7 linked regions of the Homo sapiens genome follow. The protein of the gene in region 2 interacts with the protein of the main gene of each other region in a biochemical or structural test. Each region holds a gene or a part of one and is shown on either strand. Other genes may lie near its edges.

What was found.
Region 1: of the proteins of NEDD4 (region 2) and SNCA, one has a biochemical effect on the other in vitro, tested with the Homo sapiens proteins (3 studies listed by BioGRID).
Region 3: the proteins of NEDD4 (region 2) and GABARAPL1 form a complex in vitro, tested with the Homo sapiens proteins (2 studies listed by BioGRID and IntAct).
Region 4: the proteins of NEDD4 (region 2) and SGK1 form a complex in vitro, tested with the Homo sapiens proteins (3 studies listed by BioGRID, with this or other methods).
Region 5: the proteins of NEDD4 (region 2) and RAP2A form a complex in vitro, tested with the Homo sapiens proteins (2 studies listed by BioGRID).
Region 6: the proteins of NEDD4 (region 2) and SCN5A form a complex in vitro, tested with the Homo sapiens proteins (3 studies listed by BioGRID, with this or other methods).
Region 7: the proteins of NEDD4 (region 2) and PMEPA1 form a complex in vitro, tested with the Homo sapiens proteins (2 studies listed by BioGRID, with this or other methods).

What each region holds. Positions count from the first base shown.
Region 1 is NC_000004.12:89,819,697-89,823,944, forward strand, and holds part of SNCA (alpha-synuclein), read right to left. Parts: intron 2,693-4,248; coding exon 2,550-2,692; intron 1-2,549. UniProt on the Homo sapiens protein: Neuronal protein that plays several roles in synaptic activity such as regulation of synaptic vesicle trafficking and subsequent neurotransmitter release.
Region 2 is NC_000015.10:55,826,095-55,830,033, forward strand, and holds the end of NEDD4 (E3 ubiquitin-protein ligase NEDD4), read right to left. Parts: intron 3,906-3,939; coding exon 3,803-3,905; 3' UTR 828-3,802; downstream 1-827. UniProt on the Homo sapiens protein: E3 ubiquitin-protein ligase which accepts ubiquitin from an E2 ubiquitin-conjugating enzyme in the form of a thioester and then directly transfers the ubiquitin to targeted substrates. Specifically ubiquitinates 'Lys-63' in target proteins.
Region 3 is NC_000012.12:10,219,049-10,223,296, reverse strand, and holds the end of GABARAPL1 (gamma-aminobutyric acid receptor-associated protein-like 1), read right to left. Parts: intron 2,858-4,248; coding exon 2,739-2,857; coding exon of another isoform or gene 2,586-2,738; exon of another isoform or gene 2,315-2,585; intron 1,511-2,314; coding exon 1,445-1,510; 3' UTR 169-1,444; downstream 1-168. UniProt on the Homo sapiens protein: Ubiquitin-like modifier that increases cell-surface expression of kappa-type opioid receptor through facilitating anterograde intracellular trafficking of the receptor. Involved in formation of autophagosomal vacuoles.
Region 4 is NC_000006.12:134,202,644-134,206,891, forward strand, and holds part of SGK1 (serine/threonine-protein kinase Sgk1), read right to left. Parts: intron 3,872-4,248; exon of another isoform or gene 3,768-3,871; intron 1-3,767. UniProt on the Homo sapiens protein: Serine/threonine-protein kinase which is involved in the regulation of a wide variety of ion channels, membrane transporters, cellular enzymes, transcription factors, neuronal excitability, cell growth, proliferation, survival, migration and apoptosis.
Region 5 is NC_000013.11:97,457,845-97,462,092, forward strand, and holds part of RAP2A (ras-related protein Rap-2a), read left to right. Parts: intron 1-4,248. UniProt on the Homo sapiens protein: Small GTP-binding protein which cycles between a GDP-bound inactive and a GTP-bound active form. In its active form interacts with and regulates several effectors including MAP4K4, MINK1 and TNIK.
Region 6 is NC_000003.12:38,551,440-38,555,687, forward strand, and holds part of SCN5A (sodium channel protein type 5 subunit alpha), read right to left. Parts: coding exon 4,217-4,248; intron 3,111-4,216; coding exon 2,840-3,110; intron 120-2,839; coding exon 1-119. UniProt on the Homo sapiens protein: Pore-forming subunit of Nav1.5, a voltage-gated sodium (Nav) channel that directly mediates the depolarizing phase of action potentials in excitable membranes.
Region 7 is NC_000020.11:57,703,350-57,707,597, forward strand, and holds part of PMEPA1 (protein TMEPAI), read right to left. Parts: intron 1-4,248. UniProt on the Homo sapiens protein: Functions as a negative regulator of TGF-beta signaling and thereby probably plays a role in cell proliferation, differentiation, apoptosis, motility, extracellular matrix production and immunosuppression.

The sequences.
Region 1 (4,248 bases), on a different chromosome or scaffold from region 2:
TTTTATGAGAAAGACTTTTAGGAGATCTGCGAAAGGTTATCCAGTCAGGTGGTGTATGAGCAGAGAGGAAGACTAGCCATTTTCACTCTCAGTCCAATGTTTATTTCCACAACTATGCTGCAATTTCTAGGTTCTATGGCTTCATTTTCATATTAGAAATCAGTAAGAAACTATACTACCTATAAGGGAAATATCTCCAAATGATTAATTTTGTCACATCACTTAGATTTCTGCTTTAAATATTAAAATAAATAGAAGTATTTTTAGATGGGTGGAAAGCAAACCCAGTTTTGTAAAAGATTAAGCACTTTCATGCTCCATTTGCAATTTATATTGTATGCCTTAAATGCAGGTGAATAAAAGACGGTACATGTTTCCCTGTTGCTTAATATTCTGAAGCAATAAAATCCTCTAGTTAAATCTAGTTGTCCATAACTGAATGTATAAAGACCCAAAGGAAGGTAAGTTTTGAGGAAGTGCTTGGGGAAGTGATATAGTGGCTGGAAAAGTACTACTGGTGTCCAGTCTATTCCAAATGACTGTGCAATCTTGGACTACCCACTTCCTCTGTAGATTTCTGTTTCCTCATCTCTACAATCAGAAGATTGATCTGAACAGAGGGTCTGTCAATGGACTTCCCATTAAGCTCTTTGATGTGCGTATGTGAGTGCGCATTTTTCTGAAGCTAAGAGGGTCTATAGCTTCTATTAGCCCGTGAAAAGGGTCGGAGACACAAAACTGATTAATTGCCTGTGTACTAATTTAATCTGAGGTCCCTCTTAACTTGTGAAATCTTACGAAGCTATAAATAGAATTAAAATTTTAGATGGAAACCAGGAATTAATATAATTATTATCCCTAATAAGATTATTTGAAAAGCATATTTTGTACAAAGGGGTACCACCATGACCAACCATGCATTCAAACATTAGCTGAAGAACTTCACTAGAAGCCCAGTAAGGATTTGCCATCATTAGCATCCATTGCACCAGACACTAGACATGTAAGTACATGTAGTAAATCTAAATATATCACAGATATTTTTGTTCTGCCTTTTTATTATCAGAGTTTTAATGGGCTATCAAGGTAAGGCTGCTACTTAGGATTACATGAAGTGGAAACAACCCAGAATAGTTTGCCAGCAAATAAAACTTCTTTCTCACAATTTTCAAGATATTCATCCAAAATCATTTTGATTGTAACTTTTGGATAGCTGAATAGCACTGTTCTTATACTAAGCATATGATTATAAAAGACCCAGAAATGAAAGTTGTTGTGCTTACTCACTTCCTTCCCTCCTTAATTTAATAAATGTTTGTTAATTGTCTACTGTAAGTTGGAAACTCTCCCAGACACTTGTGAAATATCAATGAACAAAATAAATATATTTCACTCTCATGGTGCCTACATTCTAGAAGGGAGAAATAAAATAAAAATCATACATTAAAGTAAGCACATTATGTATTATATTTAAAGGTGAATAACACTTTGGCAAAGAAAGGAAAAAGAAAGAAAAGGAAAGAAGGAAGGAAGGAAGCAAGAAAGAAAAAAGAGAAAGAAAGAAAGGGAGGAAGGAAGGGAGGGAGAGAGGGAGGAAGGAAGGAAGGGAGAAAGGAAGGAAGGAAGGGAAAAGAAAGAAAGGAAAGAGAGAAAGAAGGAAAGAAAGAAAGAAAAAGAAAAAGAAAGAAAGAAGGAAAAAAAGTAGGGAGACTGGGAATACCAGAGGTGAGAAGAATGGCTCCAATTTTATATAGATTAGGGCAGGCCTCCCCAAGAACGTGTCAGGGCAAGGGTATGCTTGATTTATTCAAGAAATAGCAAGGAGGTCATTGTGGCAGGGAAAAAGCAAAAATTATTTTGCTGTTGTAGTGGTGATGTTTGTGAAACTTCAACGTTGTTGACACCTCATACTGTATTAGTTCCATATTTAAAATGAAAGTTATAATATCTTTGGTATAATCTTATTCGTGTCCCATGTTTGTCAAAAAAATTCAGTCAAAATTCTTCTCAGAATTTTAAAATCTACCTCAAAACTATATCTCTGGTTGGTATGTATTTTAAGTCTCTCATTTCCCACAAATATGTATTTGGCAATGAACTGTTATGTAATATGCAGATATGCCATTTAATAAGAGATGATGTCACTATAAAGAAATAAGTAAAAGAACTTTATTTTGGAAATTAGGAAATTAGGCACAAAGGGATTTGTTACTCCAAGGAAGAGAAATTCCAAGACTTACAATTAACATGAAAGCCCTCATTCTTTCTGAAATGTCACTGTTCCTTTGGCATTTTACTACATTTTTTGTTTCATTAACTTTCTTCCAGAAATTGAAACAATCATAATAATTATAAAATTTGCATGGCATTTATCTGGGTTAATGCCTGAAACAAGCAAGACCAATATAAAGGTAGCACTTTTTCACAAGGGGAGGGTCAGGTAGCCGTTCCCCACAGTAAGTATCTTGCTCCTGCCTCCAGGCCTCACATGAAAATGAACCGTAATCTCACCAGCTTATAAATGTAACACAAAACGTACACAGCCATACCTTGCCCAACTGGTCCTTTTTGACAAAGCCAGTGGCTGCTGCAATGCTCCCTGCTCCCTCCACTGTCTTCTGGGCTACTGCTGTCACACCCGTCACCACTGCTCCTCCAACATTTGTCACTTGCTCTTTGGTCTTCTCAGCCACTGGTACAAATAAAGAGCAACAACAGATTAAAGGGTGGTAGAATAACAGTGACTTAAAATCATTCCACTTCCACTAGCCATCGGCTTCCATACACCTGTATCTACACATGCCATAGATAACTGAGTGGTCAGAAGAAACAAAAGCCACCAAGATGTCCAAGTGAGTGTGGTTCAACCAAACATTGAATCTTGGCTAAGATATTTTGGCTAAAGTCATGCAGTATTAAAAAGTGCTTCAAGTTTAACGATCAGGAATGTAAAGCCATGAGTGATTTGGATTTGGTTTATACTATGGAAAGTTTACAGAAAGCAATTCTTACAGGTGCAGTTATATTTGAACCAGACTCAGCATGAATATTTCTTTATTTCAATTCAGTGCCAATCCTTTGATCTCACTCAGCAAGTTAATTTCCACCACACCTTCTAAGCAACACAATACATACTTCTATTTATTTATTTATTTGAGATGGAGTTTCATTCTTGTTGTTCAGGCTGGAATGCAATGGCACAATCTCAGCTCACAGCAACCTCCGCCTCCTGAGTTCAAGCTATTCTCCTGCCTCAGTCTCCCGAGTAGCTGGGATTACAGGTGCCCACAACCACACCTGGCTAATTATTATTATTATTATTATTTGTATTTTTAGTAGAAACAGGGTTTCATCATGTTGGCCAGGCCGGTCTCGAACTCCTAACCTCAGGTGATCCACCCGCCTTAGCCTCCCAAAGTGCTAGGATTATAGGCATGATCCACCGCACCCAGCCCCTACTTATTATCTACGTGTTCAGACGTGGTATTATCACATATGTACGAATAACAGCATAAGAAACGGTTGTGAAGGAACTTGGATCTTTTTATAGAACTTCAGGTAGTGAAACAAAGGGTTCTTAAAAAGCTAAATTTGCAGTAATTTTAATAGGAGCACAGGAGCTAGACAGTATGAAAATGAAGAGGCTATTGAGCACCCTTACAATTTCTTTTCATAAAACAAAATGAGATACGGTCATTCAGTAGATTTATTAAAATAAGTTAACATTTTTGAGAAGACAGTGTAAATAGTTTGAATTGAGTTTACAAGCAGAAGTTTAATTTCATGTCAAAAACTTTCTTGTTCAGTTAAATAAGCCAGAAACAGAAAGGCAAACAACCACATGATCTCACTCATGTGGAATCTAAAGAAAAAGAAAAGTTGATATCATAGAAGCAGAGAGGAGAACAGTGGAGGAGAGTGGAGGATGGGGACACTCATCTAAGGAAATGAAGGCACATTTTCTTGACATGCTTTGTACTCCCCAGATAAGCCTCAGTCTGAGAGGAGTTACACCATGTCAGCTGTTTAGTGCTATTCACATGACTATTGTATAGGTTTCATCTCACCAGTTGAAGAAGCCAATATTTACTTATTTATTTATTTATTTATTTATTTTGAGACGGAGTCTTGCTCTGTCACCCAGGCTGGAGTGCAGTGGCACGATGTCGGCTCACTGCAAACTCCGACTCCCGGGTTCAGGCCATTCTCCTGCCTCAGCCTCCCCAGCAGCTGGGACTACAGGTGCGC
Region 2 (3,939 bases):
GTGCTAAAAAGGAAACACTGATTGTGATGGAGGGACTGCATAGGATGCATTGCAGGGGAAGAGATGAGCGGAACAGAAAGAGGAGGCTAGTGTGATAGGCTTTAACTTTCAAGGAAAAAGACAAAAATCTACTAAGTCTCTTTCTTCATAATGAGGTACTGACATTCTAATACCTTAGTTTAATATCATTTATAAAATAAATGTCTGCCGTGATGGACAGCAAAGCAAGGACTTCTTGTACAGGTGGGGCATGCTGTGGGCTAGCTGCTGCCCGAGTTGGCTAGAACAGGAAACGTGGAAGCAGAGGGCCATGGCCTAGGTCCCCAAAATTAAAAGCTATGGCCTGGATTATGGCAGAAACAGGGGGCTGGAACAGCACCTTCCCAGGCTGGCTTGAGTGGGTGGGAGTGGATTCCCTTCTAACTGGGAAACTAATTCTCATGCCTGAGAGGAAGGAGGAAAAGACACTTCGTTCTGAATTAACACTCCGAACTCTTTTTCTCATAGAAATGATGTTGTAAATAGTGGTTGGCTACAAGAATGGCTTCTTTGATGAGCAGCAAGGTGCCTGAAATCCAGTCCATTTTTAGCTATTATTTTTATCTTCTGGCTATTTCACTAACAACCAGACTTATGCAATACGACCTTTTTGTAAAGTGGAAATTAATTATCTGTGGTTGAGAGTTTATAATCATGTTAGTTCATCAGGTAATAAGTTTAGGATTGCACTGAAAATTTAACGTGCTGCTGTGAGGAACTAGACCAGAAGACATCACCCAGCATACTGACTTGGAAACACTCCTATTTTATAATGAACCACAGTTTTGTTTTGTTTTTTAAAATCAGAATAGAACTTTATTTGTGGATTCAAGATTTTAAAAAATGATTTTACACTTTAAAGTGTGCAATAAATTTTGATACATCAATCTTGATATATATATTTACTGTGTCAGAAGATTTTAAAAAGTCAAATAGTTTATAATCAAAATGAATTGTGTTTAACTTGATACTTATATGGAATAACTTCAGCATTATAAATAAAAACCCAAAACAAACACCATTTAAATTTGAGTTCTGATGAAATGCATTTGTAATACAATTTTGTTAAAAATTTTTAATAAGAGATTGTAGGCTAAAGTTATATGCTTGTAATTTCTAGAAACATATGATGTCCTTGCTTTATGAAAATGATCCTACTGACTGTCCCGCAGTAGAATGCATTTGAGACACTTTTCTATCTGGGATAAGGGGCTGTGTTGCTTGATAGATGTTTCTTCCAGACCACGAGCCCCTAGTGGGAGATGAAGGGGATGAAGGTCTGCAGCTGGGGACTGGTGGCAGTTGAGTCTGGTCTCATTTAACATCATGTTCTATGAGTCACAGAATCATCCAAATGAGTATCAGCCAGATACAAAGAAAGCTTTGTATTTTCTCATGCTTAGATAGTTCACAAACATAATATTTAAATAATTGTGGCAAAATCCTGTTTTAACAAAAATAATTTTCACATTCCATTCTACATAATGAGGACATTTCCAAAATGCATTGGCCCACATTACTATTACTTTGCTGATATGAAGAAAATGAATTATGATGGTAAGATCCATATACAGATATACACATGTGTATCCATATTATTTATATATTTAATATCAGAAATGTTCCTACTTCCTTGTCTCTTAGAAGTCACTTTACTTTTAAATGATTCTTTGGGAGTGTGGTCAATTTGCACACCTGACTTGACACAATCTGACGGTCAGCACAAAGCACCTTCTGATTGTATAACACTTTACAAAGTACTTTTTGCTTTCTCATCTGTCTGGAACTTCTGACAATCTGGCATGACAATGAGGGTGGGCATGATTACTCTCATTTGACAGATGAAGAAATATGAATCCAGAGAGGTTAAGTAAGCTGCTTCAGTTCACATGGCTGGTGAGATATCAAACCAGGACTATACCTGGTGCTCATCCTTGACTGCTGGTTGACAATGGTGAAGACAAAACGCAGGGTACATTAATCTGTGAATTGCTTCCCCTAAACCATGCTGATGCTGTGGTGTTTGGAAAGTAGAAAGTGGTTTTGCTACTGTCACATTTCAGATTTCTATCAGGTGCTAATGAGTACTCATCATGTTATACCCCAACAAACTTAAACCAAGAACCAGAGGTACTTTTTACAGTTCTCACAGGGTGTGTATATATATATATTTAAGAAGATTCGTAACATATATTTACAATTATTCCTAAATCACCAAGATACCATACTGAGAAATAGGTTTAATCTTTTTAAGAGCATTTTCTATATAATCATTCCAATATAAGGATGAAACAATATAAGTATGAAATATAAATACAGTCTTGGCACACTTTATCTTTGCAGGTGTGCTGGAACCTAGAACACTTTCCCTTTTGCCTTATTCTGCTTACGCCTACTTTTGATTGTTTTACAAATTCATAGACACATTTGCAAGTTCCTTGAGGATCAGGACTCAGCTTCTCTGAAGCTGACAACTCTTACCCCAGAGCATAGCACAGCGCTAGGCACGCAGCATTCAATAAACGTTTGATGAATACATGTACATGGTCTTTATGTACTTCAGTTTGGTTAAAGGAAGATATGAACTGTAGCATTTTGCCTACAGAATTCTGGATTTGTAATTAAAAACATTGTCTTCATAGTAAACAGTATTTTAAAAGGCATAAGAAATAGTAATAAATTTAATACAAATTATGCATTATAACAACTCTTTGGTTATTTTAAACAAATTATTTGGTTTTTTTACTAGAGTGATACTAAAAATATAAAAATGCGACTACAGAAATTAGCTTAATCTGTAAACATGATAAACCCTGTAAACATACATTTACTACATAATTGTACAAGTGTAAAGAATATCTAGTAAAGGCAAGTGCTATACACTTCATTTAGTTCTTCAAGGCATATTTAGAAATACTGCTTTGTGGATCTTTAATGTTTGAAGAAGGAATTCTTCTAACTACACTAAAATATGAAAAAGTGATGACTATACCAATGGTCAATAGGATATGCAGGCAAGAGAAAGGCTTTAATACTTTTTACCCATTGCAAATATGAATTTGCTTCACATGTCTTATGAACCATCTGTTTAGTAAAACTGCATATTAACAAAAGCCAAATACTTCGAAAGTGAAGAAGTAAACAGTTTTTCTGTGAGTTAGTTGGCTAGAAATATAGGTAACACACTTTCCAAAGTTTTTTCCCAAAAATCTAGGCAGTAAGGTGCATAAGGCAGGTCTACAAAATAATAAATAGCTGCGAGTAGCACTAAATATATTGTAGTTTACTCAATAGTAAAGTATTTCTTTTTCCAAATTTCAGTTTTCCATCTCAAAATGCATCAAACTTTTCACACATGACACGTATCACAAATATTTCACAGTTATCATCTCAGTAGTTTAAGAAAAAACTGCCTGGCAGATACTATACAAGAGGTAAATGTTAAGGACAAAATTCACTATTTAAGTCATACAGGACTTATATCCTATTGTGTGAACTCTAAAGCCAGGTGTGGTGGTGCCTGGCTTTAGGCAGGCACCTAACTCTAAAGACAGCATGAAACAACTGTGTAAATGCAACACATTATTTAAAAGTGATTAAAAATAAGTTGTCGTACTATTTCTTCAAATGCTTTTTATATGATTTTCTTCAAGATCTGGGAAGACTCAGTGGCCACATTTTAGTAGTTCCCCGGAAAATTTTAAGTCAAGATTTTGGTTATAAAACTATGGCAGTAAAAACACTACAGATTGTTATTTGTAATCTAATCAACTCCATCAAAGCCCTGGGTGTTTTCAATTGCCATCTGAAGTTTATCCCATAATTCTTCAAATGATTCATAAGGTGGCAAGTCCAGGCGATTAAAACTGAAAGAACAGAGAGGAAGTGGTTATGAAAGAC
Region 3 (4,248 bases), on a different chromosome or scaffold from region 2:
AACAGCAACTCCTGCTCACTAAAGAACTGAGTAAACATATATGGGTCTGACCATATGTGAACATTCATCACTAACAGCTTTCCCCACTTAGTTCTTTTGTTCAGAGAGTCCACATATCATCTATTCTAATACATACAAAATAAAGGCAACATTGCTGAACTCAGTGGATTTTTAAGGTAAGCAATTATTTTATTTCCTTGGCCTGATGGCATTGACTTCATTATACAAGAACTTGCAGCTGACAGAACTGACACACACATTTCCCCCAAGAGAAAGAACCCTTTTCATTAGCAGAGATGAATTGAAATGTCATGTCTGAGTGCAATTCCTGCTCCCCACTCCCACCCCACAAAATCCCAAAAGTGAAAATAAATCAATAAAATCCCCATGATTTACTAAAAGTCATCCCTCCAAACCTTTCTAACTAGCAGCTGCAGTGGATGATAACCAAGGAGGGAAGCAGCTGGCCATCATGTAGCATTCCTGTGCATGTGAGCCTGAAGGGACAGCAGCATGGGAGCAAGAATCCTGAATGAGAGTAGTATATAATTACCTTACTTCATACTTGCCCCCTCCCTACATAAGACACCTCTGTCCTGATACATGGAAAATACTAGAGGAGATGCTAAGAGTGGTTTTAGTCTACAATTGGAAATGCCTGAGACTTATTAAATTCCAAGGAAGGGGTGAGATAAGGGGCACCAAAGAGAAAGAGCAGGTTAGACAGGGATGCTCAACACTCTTGTCAATTCCAGTTTAATGCTATTTAATAACAAAACCATCTTCTTAATCACAACCACCTTCATGCCTAACCCCTATTTTCCAAAGGTAAGAGATCCCTGTCTAAATTTCTGGGTTGTTGTCTACTGCCACCCCTGGGGTGGTACTGTGATGTCTGAGTGAGATTGCAACCGGGATGGGAGAAAAGAAGTGTGAGACAGGGAAGATCAGGGGCCACAATGCATCAATTACAGTGGGTCTCTTTTGGTCCCCAGGTATGGTCCACTACCACAAGTCCCCTTTCCCTACCTGTCTTGTGCAAATGTCAAAAATAGAATCTCTGCCCAAAGAGAAGGGAGCACAGGGAGTTGCTGCTGGACTGCCATCATCTCTGGCCCCAACTTGTCCACCTCCTGACCCATCTATGAAACTGCACAACAATTAAACCCCAGGAATACTGTAAACTTACATCATCCCCATTCCTCTATCAAAGCCAATCCAACAGCTCTGTCCTGACATGCTTTCTCCCTGGGCCGAGGAAGCAGCAAAAAATATCAATTGAGCATGTGAAAATGTGATGACGGTGTGTGTGGTGTAATGTTTCTAGATGTCTTCACCTTCTGTCTCCTTGCGGTGGGAGCCACCCTCTTTCCCCATGTCGCGCACACACACCCCTCCCCTACCCCCAAGTCCAGGTGCTCCCATCTGCTGGGCTTCCAACCACTCATTTCCCATAGACACTCTCATCACTGTAGGCCACATACAGAAAATAGTCTTCCTCATGATTGTCCTAGGGGAAGAGATAAGACAACAGTTTAGAAAACATATTCATTCATTAGCTCTAAGATGCTGAGCCTCACACAACCTTGTAAAGCAGGTATGGAAGGTATCATTAGTCCCCATTTAAAAGAGGAGCAAAGGATAGGGAGAAGTGGTTGGAATTACACTTTGAGCTCTGAGTTCACAAACAAAAATCCTTCATTGAAAACATATTACACATAGGTATCAGGGATATGAAGATGACTAGGGCACAGTCCTCACTCTTAAAGAGCTCACTCCTAGCAAGGGGAACATAGATACCACAGATGGATATATAATGGGACATATACTAACAGGGAATATATGCTATGCAAAAAAAGATTCAGGATTATTAGAAGTTTACGTAATTCATTAACGGAGCACAATGAGAAGGAAGCATCTTATGCAAAATACTGCAAAAAACAATAGTTATAATCCCAGGTTATATTTTCAGTAATAATAAAGTCCTTCACTATAGTTTCCTCAGATTCTGACACTTCCAATTAAACCACATCACATAAAAATTATTCCTCCTGAGTTTATCTGTTAAGACATGAATCCATTTACAGACTTTGCCTTAATTTTATATTTCATTTTATCTGATTCATTGTGCCCAGATAATGTGGAATCTGTTTCACAGTTTTAGTTTTGTTCTAAGAAAAGTTTCCCCTTGTTTAGTATCAATGTGGTTGTCTTAAGCCAAAACTTCAGAGTTCATAGAAGAAGCTGACTGTGGGGAGAATCCTTCAGTTGGCAGAGGCTGGCCTCAGAGTTAGAAGGAGCTGGCTTTACTATTACGTGCTTTCTCAATCTGTTGCTAAATGGGAGTAAAATAATGAACTGGATTCTGAATGCATTACAAATTACATGCTACCAACCAGAATAGCAGGAACTGCGATGGGCTGACGCTTTGGAACTTTTGCTATCAGGAATCACTTCCTGCTGTTTCAATAAACAGTCCAGCATTAAAACACTATAGTCAGACAAGACTATAGTCAGACAAGATTTCAGAAGGATTAAATCTAGTAGAGTGGCTAATCCCTAAAAAACAAGAGGTATCTAATCTCTCAGAGCCTTACACTGCCATATGTAAGAGGATCCGGATAAATAACACCTTCTGCCCCACTTCTCAGATGTGTTATCAACGCATCTAGAACAAGGGCTAGAGGATGCCAGACTGCACTGGACGGCATCCAGTATTGTGCAACCAGAACCATTACCTCATACAGTTGGCCCATGGTAGCACTGGTGGGAGGGATGGTGTTGTTGACAAAGAAGAATAAGGCGTCCTCAGGTCTCAGGTGGATTCTCTTCCGGATTAAGAAGTAGAACTGGCCAACTGGATGATGGAAGAAGAAAAGGGCAGAAAAGAAAGTAAGAAAACAAGGAATTAGTAGAAGGGTAAGTCCTGGAAAAAAATTCAATTGCATTTTTTCACCTTAGAGTCAGTACCAGCTTTATATACCATCTGAGAAGAGCCAAATACCGGCCTGGAGCTTTCAAAATAAAAAGGGAAACTCGGAAGCCCACACAGTCCCTGACTTGCCATAGTGGAATTTATTCCTCCTTTCCCCTCTTATTCAATCTCAGACCTCATGTTAGCATATCCACTCAAAGCCTGAGGACTACGTTGAAGGAATACCATGTGCATCCAGACCAAAACATTCCCATCACTGTCTAAACCTGACTTGAAACTCTTTCCATCCCCAGACCCTCCCTAAGAAAAACTTAGCAATGGAAAGGGGTCCACTGGACTCTGGTCATCTTAGCACAGTCAGTCACCTCAGTGTTGGGGCATTAAACAAGGTTCAATGCTTTGCCTTTACTTGAGAATACTGAAAATTTTCTAGATGGCTGATATTCAAACCTATTAACTCTGGAGCAAATCAACAAAATCTTTCCAGTGTGTCCTGGATGCAGTGTGTATTCCATTAAGGATCACGATGAAGACTGAATATATGTATTTTTTTTTTTTCCGAGACAGAGTTCTACTCTGTCACCCAGGCTGAAAGCGCAATGGCGAAATCTCGGCTCACTGCAATCTCCACCTCCCCAGGTTCAAGCAATTCTCCTGCCTCAGCCTCCCGAGTAGCTGGGATTACAGGCACGCGCCACCATGCCCAGCTAACTTTTGTATTTTTAGTAGAGACGGGGTTTCACCACGTTGGCCAGGCTGGTCTCAAACTCCTGACCTTGTGATCCACCCGCCTCAGCCTCCCAAAGTGCTGGGATTACAGGCATGAGCCACCACACCCAACAATGAATATATGTCTTATAATCTCAAACAAAATCTACAAAACTTAGTTTAAAAAAATGTAGCTTAAGAAGATGTATTTAATCAGGAAACTCTAAAATATAATCCTCTCAAGAAGCCAGACTGGTTTTCTTTTTGGAACAAATTGATATCACAATTAACAAAGCCGAATTTTGGGGTTTTTTTTTTTTGTTTTTTGTTTTTTTGAGGCGGAGTCTCACTGTGTCACTCAGCCTGGAGTGCAGTGGTGCGATCTCGGCTCACTGCAACCTCTGCCTCCCAGGTTCAAGCCATTCTCCAGCCTTGGCCTCCTGAGTAGCTGGGATTACAGGTGCCCAACAACACACCCAGCTAATTTTTGTATTTTTAATGAAGACATGGTTTCACCATGTTGGCCAGCCTGGTCTCAAACTCCTGACCTCAGGTGATCTGCCCACATCCCCGTCCCAAAGTGCTGGGATTACAGGCGTGAGCCA
Region 4 (4,248 bases), on a different chromosome or scaffold from region 2:
TCTCAAAAAAATAATAAAAACATGAAAAAAAAGAAATCCTAAAGGAAAATTTCCAGGCTAAAGGGAAATGATACCAGAGAGAAACAGATTTTCAGGAAGAAATGAAGAACATCAGAAATGGCAAATATCTGGATAAAAACAAAAGATAATTTTCCCCTTATTTTTTAAAAAATGCACTGTACTGTAGGGTTTAGTACATATATAGATAATACATATGACAGCTATAATATAAAAGATGAGGGTAGAGTGGGGTAGATGCACCTACATTGTTTGCAAATTTTGACGATGGTCTATGAAAATTTAAAGTCATTTATTCTCAGCTGGGTACAGTGGCTCATGCCTGTAATGCCAGCTCTTTGGGAGGCCGAGGTGGGCAGATCACTTGAGGTCAAGAGATCGAGGCCAGCCTGGCCAACATACTGAAACCCCGTCTCTACTAAAAATACAAAAATTAGCCAGGCGTGGTGGCACGTGCCTGTAATCCCACTACCTGGGAGGCTGAGACAGGAGAATTACTTGAACCCAGAAGGTGGAGGTCACAGAGAGCCAAGATTGTGCCACTGCACCCCAGCCTGGGCAACAGAGTGAGACTCTGTCTCAAAAAAATAAAAATAAAAATAAAGTCATTTATTGTAATCTTCAGAGCACCACTGAAAATGTGATGCAAAGAGGATAACTAGAAAGTCAACAGGTAAATTAATATTAAATTCTAAAACCTATTCAAATAATCCTAGAGAAGTCAGGAAAGGAAGAATAAGCAAACAAAGAAGAGAAGGGACATATAGAAAACAAATAGCAAAACAGTAAAGTTAAATCTAACTGTGTCATTACATTAAGTATAAAGGGGCTAAACATCACAAGTAAAAAAAACAGAGATCATTAGATAGGATTTTAAGAGGAAAATCTAACCACATGATGTCTATAAGATAAGCACCTTAACTATAAGACACAGGTTGAAAGAAAATGGAAAGAAAAATATGCCATGTGAAAAGTAGGCTTTAGAAGATTGGACTGGCTGTATCTATCAGAAGAAATAGACTTAAAACAAAGACTTTTACCAGAGATAAAGAAGGAAATTTCCTAATGATAAAATGATCAGTTCATTAGGAAATAATAATAATCATAAAGATGTGTGTGTGGTTGGGCACGGTGGCTCATGCCTGTAATCCCAGCACTTTGGGAGGCTGAGGTGGGTGGATCACCTGAGGTCAGGAGTTAGAGACCAGCCTGAACAACGTGGCAAAACCCCGTCTCTACTAAAAATACAAGAATTAGCTGGGAGTGATGGCATGTGCCTGTAATCCCAGTTACTCAGGAGGCTGAGGCAGGAGAATTGCTTGAACCCAGGAGGCAGAGGTTGCAGTGAGCCGAGCCGAGATCATGCCATTGCACTCCAGCCTGGGCAACAAGAGCAAAACTCCACCTCAGAAAAAAAAAAAAAAGTATATGTGCCTAATAACAGAGGTTCAAAATACATAAAGCAAAAATTGACTGAATTAAAAGAACCAAAAGACAATTCTACCACTAGAGGTGGAGATTTTAAAACACTCTTAGTAATGGACTGACCAACTAGGCAAAAAATAAATAAATAAATAAATAAATAAATAAATAAATAAATAAATAATTACTCTAGACATAGATCCTACTTTATGAGTTGGTTAAGTTGGTGACTGGGAAGGATCTTCATGAGATGAGCTCTTGTAGGAGGGACACTCCATTCTTTGTAACACTACTGATGAAGGAAAAGTAATAAAAACGTTTTAAAAATGAGTATGTCTATTGCACCACTGCACTCCAGCCTGGGCGACAGAGCAAGACTCCATCTCAGGAAAAAAAAAAAAAAAAAAGAGTAAGTCTGAAATATTTCTATTCCTATTTCTCTATGTGTTCTGCATTAGTTTTTCTTGTAACTTTTTTTTTTTTTTTTGAGATGGAATTTCACTCTTTTTGCCCAGGCTGGAATGCAATGGCACAATCTTGGCTTACTGCAACCTCTGCTTCCTGGGTTCAAGTGATTCTCCCGCCTCAGTCTCCCAAGTAGCTGGGATTACAGGCACGTGCCACACCTCCCGGCTAATTTGTGTATTTTTAGTAGAGAAGGGGTTTCACCATGTTGGCCAGGCTGGTCTCTAACTCCTGACCTCAGGTGATCCACCCACCTTGGCCCCCCAAAGTGCTGGGATTGCAGGCATGAGCCACCACACCCAGCCCGTAACATAATTTATTTAGGCTTCAAAAATTGTCCAAGCAACATTTTCTTTTTCTTTCTTTCTTTTCTTTCTTCCTTCCTTCCTTCCCTCCCTCCCTCCTTTTCTTTCTTTCTTTCTTTTTCTTTCTTTCTTTCTTTCTCTGTTTCTCTCTTTCTCTCTTTCAGTGAAAGCAAGTTTATTAAGAAAGTAAAGGAATAAAGAATAGCTGCTTCACAGATAGAGCAGTCCTGAGGGCTGCTGGTCAAGCACCATTTTCTAGACCTGTCCTGTACAGATTTCCCTCCCTTTCCATTTTCTTTACATAACATCAAGAATCATTTATGTTCCTTTGGTAATGTTTCATTCTACATTGCTTCTTCATAACACATGTGCTGTAGATCTTACTAGCAGTATTAGCCAGCAGATGGCTTGTTTATTGTGGTGGTATACTGCTGATGGACTGAAATGATGGCATAAATAGGCTAATTCACTTTTATGTTTTTTCTTCTTTCTTCAAAAGATATAATAAAACAAGACAGAAAACAATTTTTTGACAGATGAAATTGATAATGTTTAGACCGTAAGTCTGGTCTTTGAAAAAAAAAAAAGCCATCAGAAAGTTTCTCACTTTCCTTCTCAAGTCCTCCTGTTTCTGCTAATAGGCACAGCCTCTGACTCCCTTTTATGAAGAACAGATTATAGCACAGATTTAGCCCAAGCTGTTTCTGCTAGGAGAGCTGCTTCTTCCTAAGAAGCGTGCTATAGAACTGGGCAGTCCACTCTCCATTCTCCTAGCCTTGGTATTTTCTGGCTGCGAGCTTTGGATATGTCAGCTAACCTATTCAGCTTATTATTTCATTTCTAATAGAGGCATAACAAGGAAAGGGCTGTCTCTCCTATTTCAAGGGATTGCGGCAAACACTACATTAGATTTCTGTGAATACTCCTTGTAAAAGCGTGAGGCATAATACAAATATCAGATATCAGCGTGAGTTTTCTATTTCATTAGACCTATTTCATTAGAAAAGGTGAAAGCTCTATTATCACTCTCTTAATTGTTTTAGCTCCTTTTTGCTTCACCTTCCCTTTTATTTCTAGTGTCTACTTTGTGCAATTAGGCCTCACGGCTCATGTGTGTTTGTGAAAAAGAATTTTTAAATGTCTTCTATTTGCTATGAGAACATACCCTACTCTTTGTCTAAGCGTAATTTCTAATCATATAACCTGAAGCATATTCTCCGATCTCATAAAGTGGCATTCTTCTGATTCTGATTAGATGTACAGCCCTAATATCATAGTGCAAGTATACATGCCCTCCCATAAGTATTCTGAAGTATGATTCACCCTAGGTTTTCAAATCTCTTCCTTGCCCTAGAAAACAAACTTGGACTCATGTGTTTGCCCACTTTATTCAACTCCTCTGTCTTCTACTCCAGCAAATAGACTCATTCCTCATTCCTCCCAACACTTAAATATGCTTCACAATCCACAAAGCTGTACCTGATGATATATATATATATATATATATATATATATATATATATATATATATTTTTTTTTTTTTTTTTTTTTTTTAAATGACAGGCAGGTAATGTGCAGACATCATAACAAGGCTTGAAGGAGGCATATCTCACACAGGAACATGAAAACCCAATCATCACACTTATAAACGACAAAGGGATCTAGTATATACGTTTTAGATACTGAAAAGAAGACATAACAAAAGGACTTTTAGGGTAAAATTGATTGCAAGGCTAGGTATGGTGGCTCACACCTGTAATCCTAGCACTTTGGGAAGCCGAGCTCAGCAGATTGCCTGAGGTCAGGAGTTCGAGACCAGCCTGGCTAACATGGTGAAACCCTGTCTCCATTAAAAATACAAAAATTATCCAGGCATGGTGGCTCATGCCTGTAGTCCCAGCTACTTGGGGGGCTGAAGCAGGAGAATCGCTTGAACCCTGGAGGTGGAGGTTGCAGTGAGCCGAGATCGTACCACCGCACTCCAGCCTGGGCGACAGAGCAAGACTCCGTCTCCAGAAAAAAAAAAAAAACAAAAAAA
Region 5 (4,248 bases), on a different chromosome or scaffold from region 2:
AAATCATGACTTATTTAATTTGAGCAAGAGTAGGAGGGACCTATATCATGTTGGAGAAAAGATTTCTACATTCTAAAGGGTAAAAGAACTAGAATCTATGAGAAGAAGGGGCAGGGTGTTACAGATCACAGTTCCTTATATACAAGTAAACTTTTAAACTGTGACTTTTTAACACTAACATTTAACAGACCTGACAGTACAAAATGGGTTGCCTGTAGGTATGAGTTCCACGTCACTAAAAATGTTCAGACGTAAGCTCCAAAGCCATTTGGTAAGTTTATCATGGAAGTAATTGAAGCATCAGTTTTTTTGACGTTTTGCCTTGGGACTCTCTTGGTAGATGATTTTAACTGTGTGAAAAGATGAATGAGGGGACTTAGAAAAGCCTTTCTGATTCTCATTTCCAAATTCAAAGAGAATTATATTTCAACCTGCTTATCACTAAGAAGATACCAGCATGTTAAAATTCACATGAAGTATGACCTTCTTTAAATACGCTACGATGCAGCACCCTCAAAAGTAAAGTACAGAAACTGACAGTAGTGGTATCTGTCTACAGTTTATCATTGGTGAATAAATGAAGGGAAGAAGGAATTGAGTCTGGACTTGCCGCATATGGAACCATGAACTATACACATAGAATGTTGTTTGGGGTCACAAAGTAGTAGATTAGGCCAGTGATTCCTAAACCCTGCTGAACTTCAGAATCCATCTTCAGAGCTTATAGATATAGACATATTACATATTTTAATAGACTCTTGGGTCCTGATCCCACAGATTTAGATTAACTAGCTCTGGAATAGGGCCCAGAAATCACTATCTTTAAAAGAATTCTCAAGTTGTGTTGATGATCAGCCAAGTTCAGACACGACCAGAATAAAATATATATACGTATACATACCTACATATCAGGACAGTTACAAGAAAGGAGAAAGCAAAATAAAGTATTTTGATAAACACATCAAGTTCTTTTGAGTTACTGATATTTTAAAAAGCTGTCTCGGTGAGAAGCCCATTAACATTCTACAGCTAAGTGATGCTACAGCCAGTATTTCTGATGTTTCATTCAGTCCATTAAGCAGAGCTGCTTAAAAGAACTAGTTTTATTTATTTATACATTTATAATCAGGTTCATGAATACAGTCAACACTATGGAAATTCTTGTCAATAAAAAAGTGTTTGTCCACAGACTACACACAGAAATAAAATTATTAGACCTGCATCAGTCACCGTCTGAGCTGGTCATGCCCTTAAAGGAAATTTCAAGGAAGATGGGCTGAAGTTGGTGAGATATCTGCTGATGTTTAAGATGTAAGCAAGGTGGTATCTTACTCATGATCAGGTTAACAATAACACATACATTGAACAGTTTGAGAATTTTGCATCTTTAGCTTTATGTCCAAATGATGAAAAGGGGGTAAGGAAGAAATGATGAAAAGGGGGAAATGATGAAAAGGGGGAAAATGAAGGCAACCTGCAAAACTGATAATGAAAATAGAACATGAAAGTAACTGTCATCACCCACTAACAAAGCACCTCATCTTCCTAAATAACAGAGTCAGCCCTCTAAGTCAGTCTGTCATAAGTGCCAGATTTGTTTTCTGAGGCCACTTTTGGCACCCGAATTCCTGAGGTCTAGCTTCAAATGAGCATTTCCTCCACTGCCAGAGTCCTGCAGGAGGCTGTAGAGATGGATCCCACAGCTGGTCCCTGCACTGACAGGCATGCTGTCGCCGGCTCAGGCATTGTCTAGGGCATGTCCTGCTTAGAATGCTCTTCCCCTAGAACCTGCACGGTAGGGAGCAGATTCCCAGAAACCCTTCCCATCTTTGTTCACAGCCACTTTCCCAACAAGGCCTGGGATCATCTTATTTAAAACTGTGGCACCTGTGCTCCCCACCCACCACCTGATCCACATCTTTTTTTCCATTGCACTTAACACTTTTATTGTAAACCCAGAATTGACTTGTTATGTTTATTGTTGATGTCTGCGCCCTCTGCTAATTACAGAGCTTTATTTGCTTTGTCCATTGATGTAAGTGTCTAGAATAGTGGCTAGCACTTAGTATATAAATATGTGTTGAGTGGATGGATAAGTACATGATGTATTGATTGTTCGATTGTTCATTACTAGCTATTTATGCCACATCAGGCAGTTTTCAGTATAGCCTTCAGTATTCACGTAGTTAAAACCATCCCAAATATTTGTGTTTGAACAACGTTGTCTGTGAAATGGAACTGCCTAGGTCATGAGTGCATTTTGGAGTTCTGCTGTTGAGTCAGAGCATGCTGGCAGTAGTGGCTCCGCTTGTAGAAGTGAAACCTCCTGCTTATGTTTTGGCCCCATGAGATCTCATAAGATTTCCCCCAACATTTTTGGCTTTACTCCTGATGCACACTTTCATATCTCTTAAAGATCAGCCTGTTGGACGTTATTCTTAGAACAGTGCTAAGCACTCAGCAATTAACCTAGTCAATGATATGTGTTGACTGTGGGTGTGACCCACCATGTCTGTTGTGATTTTTAACTTCAGAGTATCTTAGGAATTATCCAGTCCAGCTCATTTTATACTTCAAGAAACTCAGGAAACCAAGATTAGGTTAATCTTCTAAATTCACAGTACTAGCTAGAGGCAGCCCCTTCTGGGACAGGAGTCCTAGTCTGTTTGGTTTCTTTTTTTTTTAAACCCACCATATTGCTAAAACAGATAGCAACACCAGCTTCCTCATGCAGTGCAGTCATCTACTGTCAACACAGGTCTTGGCTTCTTTCCCTTCAGCGTCTCACCCATCTTTCTTAAGGAGGATCCAGATTTCTCCAAATGTTACCTTCATATGGGACCCTATTCTGTCACCCCAATCCAGAGCCTTCTTAGAATGCCTTTCCCACAGGGGCCAGTATATTCTCTCGAGTGCCCGCTGTTTGGGAATGCTTGCTTTTCTGCTTTCCTAGGCCCCCATCACCATGGATGTTCAGCACAGGGACTCTGGAGAAGCACCTGGTTAGTGTCTGGTGGCTGCTTTGTTGTTTTTGACTCCCATCTTTTTTGCCTGTCTCTTCCTCCAGCTTCACCCTCAACTCGGTTTGCCCTCAGGAGTTCTTTACCTCCTTTGATCAGTTTCTCCGGCTCCTTCTTCACCCTTTGTGGCTTCTCAAGGCCACATCACTAGAGTTAGGAGGGGAAAGAAGCAAGCACCCTCCTTTTATCTAGTACTTCATTTTTTTCAGCATTATCTCATTTGCCCTTTACAGCAACCCTGTGTTAAGTGGGAACAGATACTCTTACTCCCTTTTTACTATCAAAGAAATGAAATACAGATATGTAAAGGAAATGATCTCATTGGCAGAACTGGAAGCAGAGCCTCCAAATCTGGGTGTAGAATCTTTTCTACTGTCCCAAATTTTAACAGAGAGACAAAATTTATCACCGTCTGGTATTCTGAAATGTACATAATTTTTCTCAACATCGTACTCAGTTTAAAAATCTTCTGAGGATATTAATGTGGATTTCTCTAGTGTCTTTAGAAACTTGATTTTAGAAAAGGCCACTGACAAGTTAGTGATATAATAAACAGGTCCTCTGATACTGACTGCATTTTCATCTACATTTACCAGTTATTAAATGCTGTTATATGTGGAACTGTGTTTGCAATATTTTATTTACTGTTTTGAGAATTAGGTTGATGGTAAGATTTATTCAAATTCTTGATTTTAATAATGTATCAATACAACTTAATAATTTGATTTATTTGCAAGTTTTGAAAATCCACATATTCTAGTAGATCCTGAACTTAACTAAAAGTGTAAGAAATATTTCACATATAAAACATGATACAGGCTGGGTGCGGTGGCTCACGCCTGTAATCCCAGCACTTTGGGAGGCTGAGGCGGGCGGATCACGAGGTCAGGAGATCGAGACCATCCTAGCTAACACGATGAAACCCTGTCTCTACTAAATATACAAAAAATTAGTCGGGCGTGGTGGTGGGCGCCTGTAGTCCCAGGTACTCAGGAGACTGAGGCAAGAGAATGGCGTGAACCCGGGAGGCGGAGCTTGCAGTGAGCAAAGATCATGCCACTGCACTCCAGCCTGGGAGACAGAGCGAGACTCCGTCTCAAAAAAAAAATATATATATATATATATTTATATATTTATATTTATATATTTATATAGATATTTATATATTTATATATATTTATATATATATTTATATATATATTTATATATTATATATATTGTATTTAAA
Region 6 (4,248 bases), on a different chromosome or scaffold from region 2:
GCGGATCCCCTTGGCCCCTCGGATCAGTCTGAGGATGCGGCCTATTCGGGCCAGGCGGATGACTCGGAAGAGCGTCGGGGAGAAGAAGTACTTCTGGATGATGTCCGAGAGCACAGTGCCTGTGGGAAACAACAGAGACTGTGGCTACTGGTGGCACCTCTGTCTTCCAGCCAGCATCACTGTGCAGGGGTTGGCGGTGGGGGGGGGGTCTCTATATGGCAAGGAGCCAAGGAGAGGCGGCCCTTCCAGGATTGCGTCCACTGGGCATGCTAGGACTCTGCCTGCTCCTGTCTGTTTGAGTCTCCATGTCTGCATCTGTGACCCAGAAAAATGGGTCCTTTGCAGGGTTCCTTCTCAGCCCCCTCATTCCTTAATCTTCAGTGTGTACCTACACAATAGAGCTGTCCTAGGCCCATCTTCTACATCTTGGGTTCTCAGGCCAGAGGGGATCTGCTTAGTATCTTGCCCACCCAGCTTGGGCCAGAACTCAGGTCTTTTAGCTCCTTGCTATTCAAAGTGTGGTTTGAGGACCAGCAGCCTTGGGATCTCCTAGGTGCTTATCAGAAATGCAGAATCTCAGCTCCACCCCAGCCCATTGCATCTTAAGAAGCCCAGATGATTTATGTGCCCATCGAAGGGCATGAAACACTGGCCCAGAAATCAGTGCTCCCTGATGCCACGCCATGGCCAGTGTCTTCTCTCAGCTTCTCTGTGATGGTTCTTATCGCTCTCCTAACTCTGCCTCCTTTGAGGGCGTCACTGCCCCTGGGTCTCCTGTGACTACCTGGGTTTGGAGTTTTAAGGGGCATGGATATAAATCATGGAATAAAGAGTGAAATAAACTTGTCTTATATGGCCCAAGTGCCCTTTCCAGACTCCTTATATAATAATGTCACTGACTGACATGGGTCCAGTGTTTACGATCACTGGGGCAATGGGCCGAGCACTTTATAGCCATCATTTCATTTAGTCCTTCCCATTGTCCTAGGAAGTGAGCAGATGCCATCATCCTTATCTTCCAGAAGAGGAAACAGAGGTGAGGTAACTTACCCAAGTTGCCACCTAGTGAGTGAGAAGCTGGGATTTGACTCAGACGTTCGGGCTCCAAGTTGATCTCTTAACCACTCCTCCTCTCTGGTACCGCCCAAACAGCGGGCCAGGAGAGATCCCAAAGTACATGCTGAACCTTCCAAAGCCTCTGAGACTGTCCCTCAATGGTTCCATTCCTGCTGCTGACATCCTGCATTCTCTAAAACTCCTCTCCAGTCCCATAAGGCACGCTCTCACCCTCATCCTGCTTGAGACCCCCCAGAGATTCCTGACCCTACTTTGTGCTTCCATCTTCCCGTCACTATAGCCACAGCAGTGCCTGCCTTAGCCCCTGCATTATCCTTTACATTTACCAGAGGCAGAGGTTGTATATGGCAGAAAGATGAAAGTCACAGTCACCGCAAGGCAGAGCCCCTTGGGGGTAGAGTTAAAGAGTTTGGGCTCCGAGCACAAGTGACAAAAGAAAAAATATAAGTAAACTGGACTTCATTAACATGTAAAACTTTTGTGCTTTAATGGACACCACTAGGAAATGAAAAAACTCACAGACTAGGAGAAAATATTTTTAAATCATATATCTGATAAGAGACTATGATCCAGAATATGTAAAGAACTCTTACAACTCAACAAGAAAAAGAGAAATAACCCAATTAAAAATGAGCTAAGGATCTGAATAGAGATTTCTCCAAGGAAGATATATAAATGACCAACATGCACATGGAAAGATGTCCTGCATCGTTAGTCATCAGTCATTTGCTTTTGCAAACCAAAACCTCAGTGAGATATCACTTCATACTCACTAGGAGGGCTCCTATAAAAAGAATGCAGGCAATAACAAGTGTTGGTGAGGGCAAAATAATTGGAATCCTCATACATTGACAGCGAGAATGTAAAAAGGTGCAGCCATATTGAAAAACAGTTTGGTGGTCCCTCAAAACTTTAGATAAGTGGTTTTCAGGGGTGAGGGAGAGGGGAAATGAATGGGGATTGACTATTAAATGGGTAGAGTTTCCTTTGGGGAAAGGAATATATTCTAAAATTAGATAGTGGTGATGGTTGCAAAGCTCTGTGCATATATTAAAAAACACTGAATTGTATACTTTAAAGTGACTTTAAAGTTAACCGTGAATTTTATGGTATGTGAATTATGTCTCAGTAAAGCTGTTATATAAAAAAAAGATCTGGGCTCCGAGGTCAAACAGACATGGGTCAGGATTGGGTCTCTGCTTCTCCCTAGCTGCACAATCTCCCTCCTTTGGTGCTGAATTGACTGGGTGAATTGCATGAGGCAGGTGATGTCTGAAGGAGTCTGGCATACACCTTGGCGGTTAGCTCCAGAATTTTCCATCTTCAGGGATAATTTCTACTCTGGAGGGCCACCTATCCCCCATCCCTGGGGACCCATCTCATCCTGAGCTTCCTTCTCCTTCAACCTAAGTGCAGGCAGAATTAGCCTCCACAGCACCCACTCCCATTCCCAGACTCATCCTTGAAGCTCTCTAAGCAGTTAGAGAACTGTGTTCCCAGTTCCTCTGGAGGGTGGGGCCAGGAGCAAGTGCTGGGTCCTCTGCCAGATTGGTCTCCTTGGCCCAAGTGGGGCCTTCCAGATAAGTTCTCTCTGGAGAGGTGTGTGTGCGTGTATGTGTGAGGGGAGAAGGGGGGTGAGAAATGCACTGAAAAAAATTATGAAAGAAGCTAGGGTTGTACATGGCATTCAGCAGAGACCCAGGGGCTGGAGGAGAGGCCTGGCTGGGGAGGGCTTCTCCGTCCAGCTGACTTGTATACCCACCCACGATGGAGAGGATGACAACCACGAAGTCGAAGATATTCCAGCTGTTGGTGAAGTAGTAGTGGCGCAGGGCAGCCAGCTTGACAATACACTCGCCTGTGAAGATGGCCACAAAGAGCAGGTTGATCTTGGCCAAGATGTTGATTTTCTCAGGACTTTGGTCATCTGTCTCCACCATCATGGTCACCATATTCAAGCAGATCAGAAACATGATGGTGACGTCAAAGGCCTGCTTGGTCACAATGTCGAATATGAAGCCCTGGTACTTGTTCTGAAAGGAGAGGCAAATGGAAAGTGCTCAGCAGGGCCCTTGGGGAGGCTGGCAAATGCCTGTTGCTGCCTCTCATCCCAGACCACCCACCCTCCCACTCTACCCTCTAGTGAGCCCAAAGCCCCTGCAACACTGCCACAGAGAGTGCAGAGGAAAAAGTCCTGGAGGCTAAAGCCACTGGCTGTCCTGCTGAAATGCTTCCTGGGCTTCAAGGCCCATCCCCAGAGCTCCATCTTCCATGAGGCCTTCCATGATGGATCTTCAGGGAGAGATTGTTCCTGCCCTGAGCATCCTTAGCACACTGTTCATTGTGCTTCCCTTTTAGTTCCCACAGTCTGAAGGCTCAAGGGCAAATTTAAACTTCAACCTTAGTAATTATGTCAGTGCTTAGATTAATATATTTTCTCCACTTTTTTATGGAATTTATTTTATTTATTCTACTAACCATATTTGTATGTGTCTTTAATTGTAAATCAGCCCAGATTATTTGGGGAAAGAAATAAGATTTTATATATATATATATATATATATATATATATATATATATATATATATATTTTTTTTTTTTTTTTTTTTCTTCTGTTCTCCCACTTGGAAAAGATTATAAATAACACACACACACACACACACACACACACACACACAATTTTTTGGATAATGGCTTGATTGGGCCAAGGGAGTCAGTCTTGGAGAGGACCCCGCTCTCCAGAGCTCTTGGCTCTCCCCACCAGGTGACTCAGGAATCCGGCTCCCTGACTGTTCTGGGGTTCCAAGGATGAGGCTGTGAGTGGGGTGGGGTGGGGCTGTGAAGGCTGCACTGCTTTTCCTGGGGAAAGCCTGCATCCTTGAGGGGAAGGAGGAGATTTGCTCAGGTACAGAGGGTTCCTGTGGGTGGGGAGTGTCCTGGGATGCTACATCCTTATCATACCTTCCTCCCTATCTCTACGAGGCTGGGACCTCTCTTCATGATCAGACATCTGATAGTGCCCCTCAGGCTGGGCTGAAAGACTGTGAAGCGGCTCTGATGGCTGGCCATGTGGCACGAAAGCTTCCCAGGGACCCCAGAAGATCCTCCCCACTCCCACAAAACCAGGAGCCTGGCTCACCAGGGGCCGTGGGATGGGCTTCTGGGGCTTCT
Region 7 (4,248 bases), on a different chromosome or scaffold from region 2:
AACCATCAGAAGCTTCTGGGCTTTCTGCTCCCAGGTTAGGCTGTCTTAGGAACTGCAGCCAGTGGGGCATCTGGACGTCAGGGCGGTGTTGACCTCACGGCCCCAGTTTTGTGCCTTGCCTTGTACCCCCTCTTCCAGCCTCTGTCCACCAAGCCTGGCAGTGGATTAAGGGAACCCTGCTGGCAGACCCGAAGAGACCGTCTGGGGCCTCTTGGGCCAGCAACGGGCATGCTGGGGTCGTTGCCAGCCAGGTCTGCGGTGGGCCTGGCAAGGACAAGGAGTATTACACAGATAGTCAATTACCTCCATGTTCAAGGCCATGGGCCCCAGATGGGCCTGTTGATTCCAACCTTCCCAGCCAGTCCGAGGATGGGCAACCTTTTTCTGGTGAAGGCCTTCTCATCACTAGGCACTCTGTTACAGAGTGACCGCTAGGGAACCAGGCAGAATGGACCATCGAGTCCAATCCGCCCCACCATCATCGCTCACCTCTATGAACACACAGCTGCTCCAGACACTAGGCCACACACAGCCAGAATCTCTCTGCACCCTCAGCACAGGGACTATTATCACCCCACTTTACAGACCCATCAGATGACAGTGAAGGGGGGCACAAAGGGGACACGGCCAGCAAGTTTTGACGCCTCCATCCCTCTGGCCCTCGGTCTCACTCCTAACCCACCCACAGCAGGGCAGGTCACTTGATGAGACAGATGGGGTCTGCCAGCAGGTTCTGTGGGGCTTCTTGGTGACAGGGGAGACAAAAGGAACTGCCAGCACTTAAAACCCAGGAGTTTTATGTCAAAATCTAACCATTCGGCTGCCCTGGAACGGAAAGATCTGGCCACTCAGGGCCCATGTGGCAATGGTGGGCTGAGCAGTGGCCACAGTGCCTTTAAACTGGACTCTTGCCCCTGGTTCCCTGGAGCCCACCCCAAAGACAACTGAGTTTGCTTCCCTGAACCATGCTCCCCCAGCCTCGGGGAGCCCCTGGCACAGCATGGTACCATCCTTGTCACTCCAGAGGGTGCATGAAGAGTAGGTCCGTCTCCCGCACAGCTCCCGCACGTGCCCCAACCATGCGTGCGTTACGCAACACTTTGTAAAAAGCAAAAAATGGGCCCTCGGCTTCAATCTCCTTCTCTCAGCATGTGCACCGTACAGAACCCGAGGCTGGCAGCAGCACAGCCTCCGAAATTCACCGTGTAAGAGTTCCTTCTCTTTGGGCAGGATCCCAGACACCGAGGTGCCTGCAAACTTGGTCTCTGGATGCTAACACCTGAAGAGAGAAGGCCACACCGATCCTCAGGTTTGGACCCTGCCACCAGCACCTTCCTCCAAACATTTTCTGGCTTTTAAACTATTGACCGGACTATAAACGTTTAAACCCCCTGGCCCTGGGCCACGATGGGAGTGGAGATGGTGGGGGCAGGCATGTGGGCACACCTGACCCCGTGGCTCTGGGGCAATTTGGTGGCGGGTGCATCTTGCAGCATGGAGGCTTCCTTGGGGCTCCTGAGGGAGGCAACTCTGCTGTAGACGCTTCCAGCCTCCACAGACCTCCCGACGGCCTCCCTTCTCCTGGGCAGCGGCACACAGGGGTCCACCTTCCTTCTTTTATGGAGAGGGTGCATACCTTCGCACCTCTTACAGGGGAGAATGTGCACTCTTCCTCCTTTTCTTCTTACATGCCCAGAAGTTTTAACCATTCCCAACCCAAAGAGAAGAGGGCAGGAAAGACAGATGGGGTAGAAGCTGTGTGTGCCTGTGTATGACTGTGTGTGCGCGTGTGTGTGTCTGCACGTGTGCGCATGCAAGCACCCACTCACAGGCGCGTGTGTGTTTGTACAGGAACAATTAGTTATTTTGTGCTTTGACAAATGCTAAACTCACCTCGACCCTGGGTCACACTGGGCAGTGTAGCTGGCTTAACCCAGACCTCCTGGGAAGCTGAGGCCAACTGTCTGACCTAAGATTCGGGTCATAGAACTCAACTCCCTTAATAACTCCCCTATTGCACCACAACCTAAAACCCAGACAGTCAGAAAACCTGTGGGTGAAAAGTCCCAGGGTTTAGCGGGTCCACAGGGGAGAACAGCTGGTGTTGGACATCTGTATTTTAACCCCAATCCAAAACATCAGCTTTCACTAACGCCAGGGTCTCTCCTTAGAAAAGCAAATCCAAGACGAAAACGGGAAAACTTCATCTCAAGAGGAAGCCCCTATCTTTCCTTCATGGCACACAACAGGCACTCAGTAAAAGCTGAGTGGATGAGTGGCTGCGGAGTGGCCACAGGCCTTCACAGGGACGAACGTCTGACGGGAATTAAGGGTCTCCTGGCAACGCAGATGCTGCCCTCTGGCCCTCAAGCCCCTTAGGAGAAACCACTAACTGATTAAACAGTGGTCTCAGTAGGGGGCATTTGACCATGTCTGGAGACATTTCTGGCTGTCAAACCTGGGAGAGGGGTGCTGGTATCTAGTGGGTGTGGGAGAGGGGTGCTGGTAACACCTTACAGAGCACAGGACGGCCTTTCCTGCCCCCCAACAAAGAATTACCGGGCTCAGAATGTCACAGTGCCAAGGCACTGTCTCTACACCCTCACTTGATTCAAGCAAGTGTCAAACAGCATGTGCCAGGCAAGCCCAGGGAAACCTGGGTGTCCTGTGAGTTTCTGATATTTTCTCATATTTGTTTGGAAAAGGTTGGAGAAGAAGAATCAGAGGCTCGGTGACTCTGGCCAGTGGGTGATGTTAAAAAGACAGCTGCCACCGTAGATACCACCAGAGATGGGCCCAGGGCAGGGGCACCTCCCAGAACTCTCAGGAAACGCCTCCCGCGTGAGCAGACACCGGGTGGCCCCAGGTTCAGTCTTTCCCGAGAGCGAACTTAGCATCCATCTGGGCCCCAGAAGTTTGAGGCAATAACCAGAGGAGAAAGACCGGGGGTAATCTCTGAGACGCAGCAGAACTGAAATGAGGTAGATGAGGTTGCCAGGAAAACCAGGTGCCAGGAGTCCTTTCCTCAAAAGTAGCCGCTTCAAGCTCCAGGCTGACATCTGCAAGGCTGTCACTCGTGCTGCCTGCTTTTAATCCCAGGACCCTTGGCTTTTTAAAAGAAAGGGTTTTCCCACGGGTATGTTTTGGGAACACTGAATTCCCACCAGACAGCAGCCTCATCCCTCGACTCTCAGAAAAAATGGGGCCCCAGGAGTGTCCTGTTACAGTCAAGCCCACTCCATTCAGCATCCTGAGAGCAGACGTGGCTCCCGGCGTACAAAGGGGCTCTGACAATTTCCCCCAGCCCCCAATTTCAAGGAGGACCTGCTCTGGGGCCCAAGTACCAAATTCAAGAGGTGTGGGCGTGCAGTCCAAGAGAAACCACCCTGGCCTGGGGCTGGTGTGGGTTTTGGACCTCGGGCAAAACTTTCCACGGTGGACTTTCCTCATCTGTAAGTCAGGGATGTGAACCCCGAGCTTGCGTAGGCTCCTCTCAGGTCTGAAATTTGGGGTAGCTGAAGACCACACAGGGGAACCAGCAGTGGGTGGGAAGCCCGGTCCAGCCTGAAGACCTCCAGCCAGGCTCAGCAGGGGAGAGGCCCTATCTTGAAAGACTATAGAATTCTAGATTTCATCCATCACGGCCTCATTCTTCAGATGAAGACAGTGAGGCCCATCATGGCTTAAGGACCTAGCAAGGTCAATTTCCTTCTGCCAAAAGAAGGTATCTTACAGGATAGGAGCCACTTGGACACTGCCTCAAAGCCCAACTCCAAACCATCCATCAAGTTCTCGTTGCAAACAACTCCCAGCATGTACTAGATGAAAAACAGCAGCCACTACTAGTTAAAAGAAAAACCAAATACTAGCTTTTTTCCTTTCTTTTTTCCTTCCCTCCTTCCTTCCTATCTTTTGGTGTAAAGAAACTCCAGGAGACACCAGGCCTTACCACTTCCTCACCCTAGTCTCTCGGGGAAATCTGATGAAAACAAACTGTTACAGTATACCTGCATTTTAAAGACTGGTTGGTTCCCTCCGTGCCTTGCAGCTTTCTTCCAATAAGTAGGGGGCTGTGTATACACAGAACACAGGACTAACTGGGGCACCCAGGGGCCAGCTGGAACAGGCTAGGGTTCCAGGTATTAACCCCAAGGGTCCCAATCACTCAAAGGCTGCTGGCGGCGGCGGGGCAAAGTGCAGAGGGCGGCGGCAAGGCATTTAACAAGAGGCCTTGATGTCAGGTCAAAA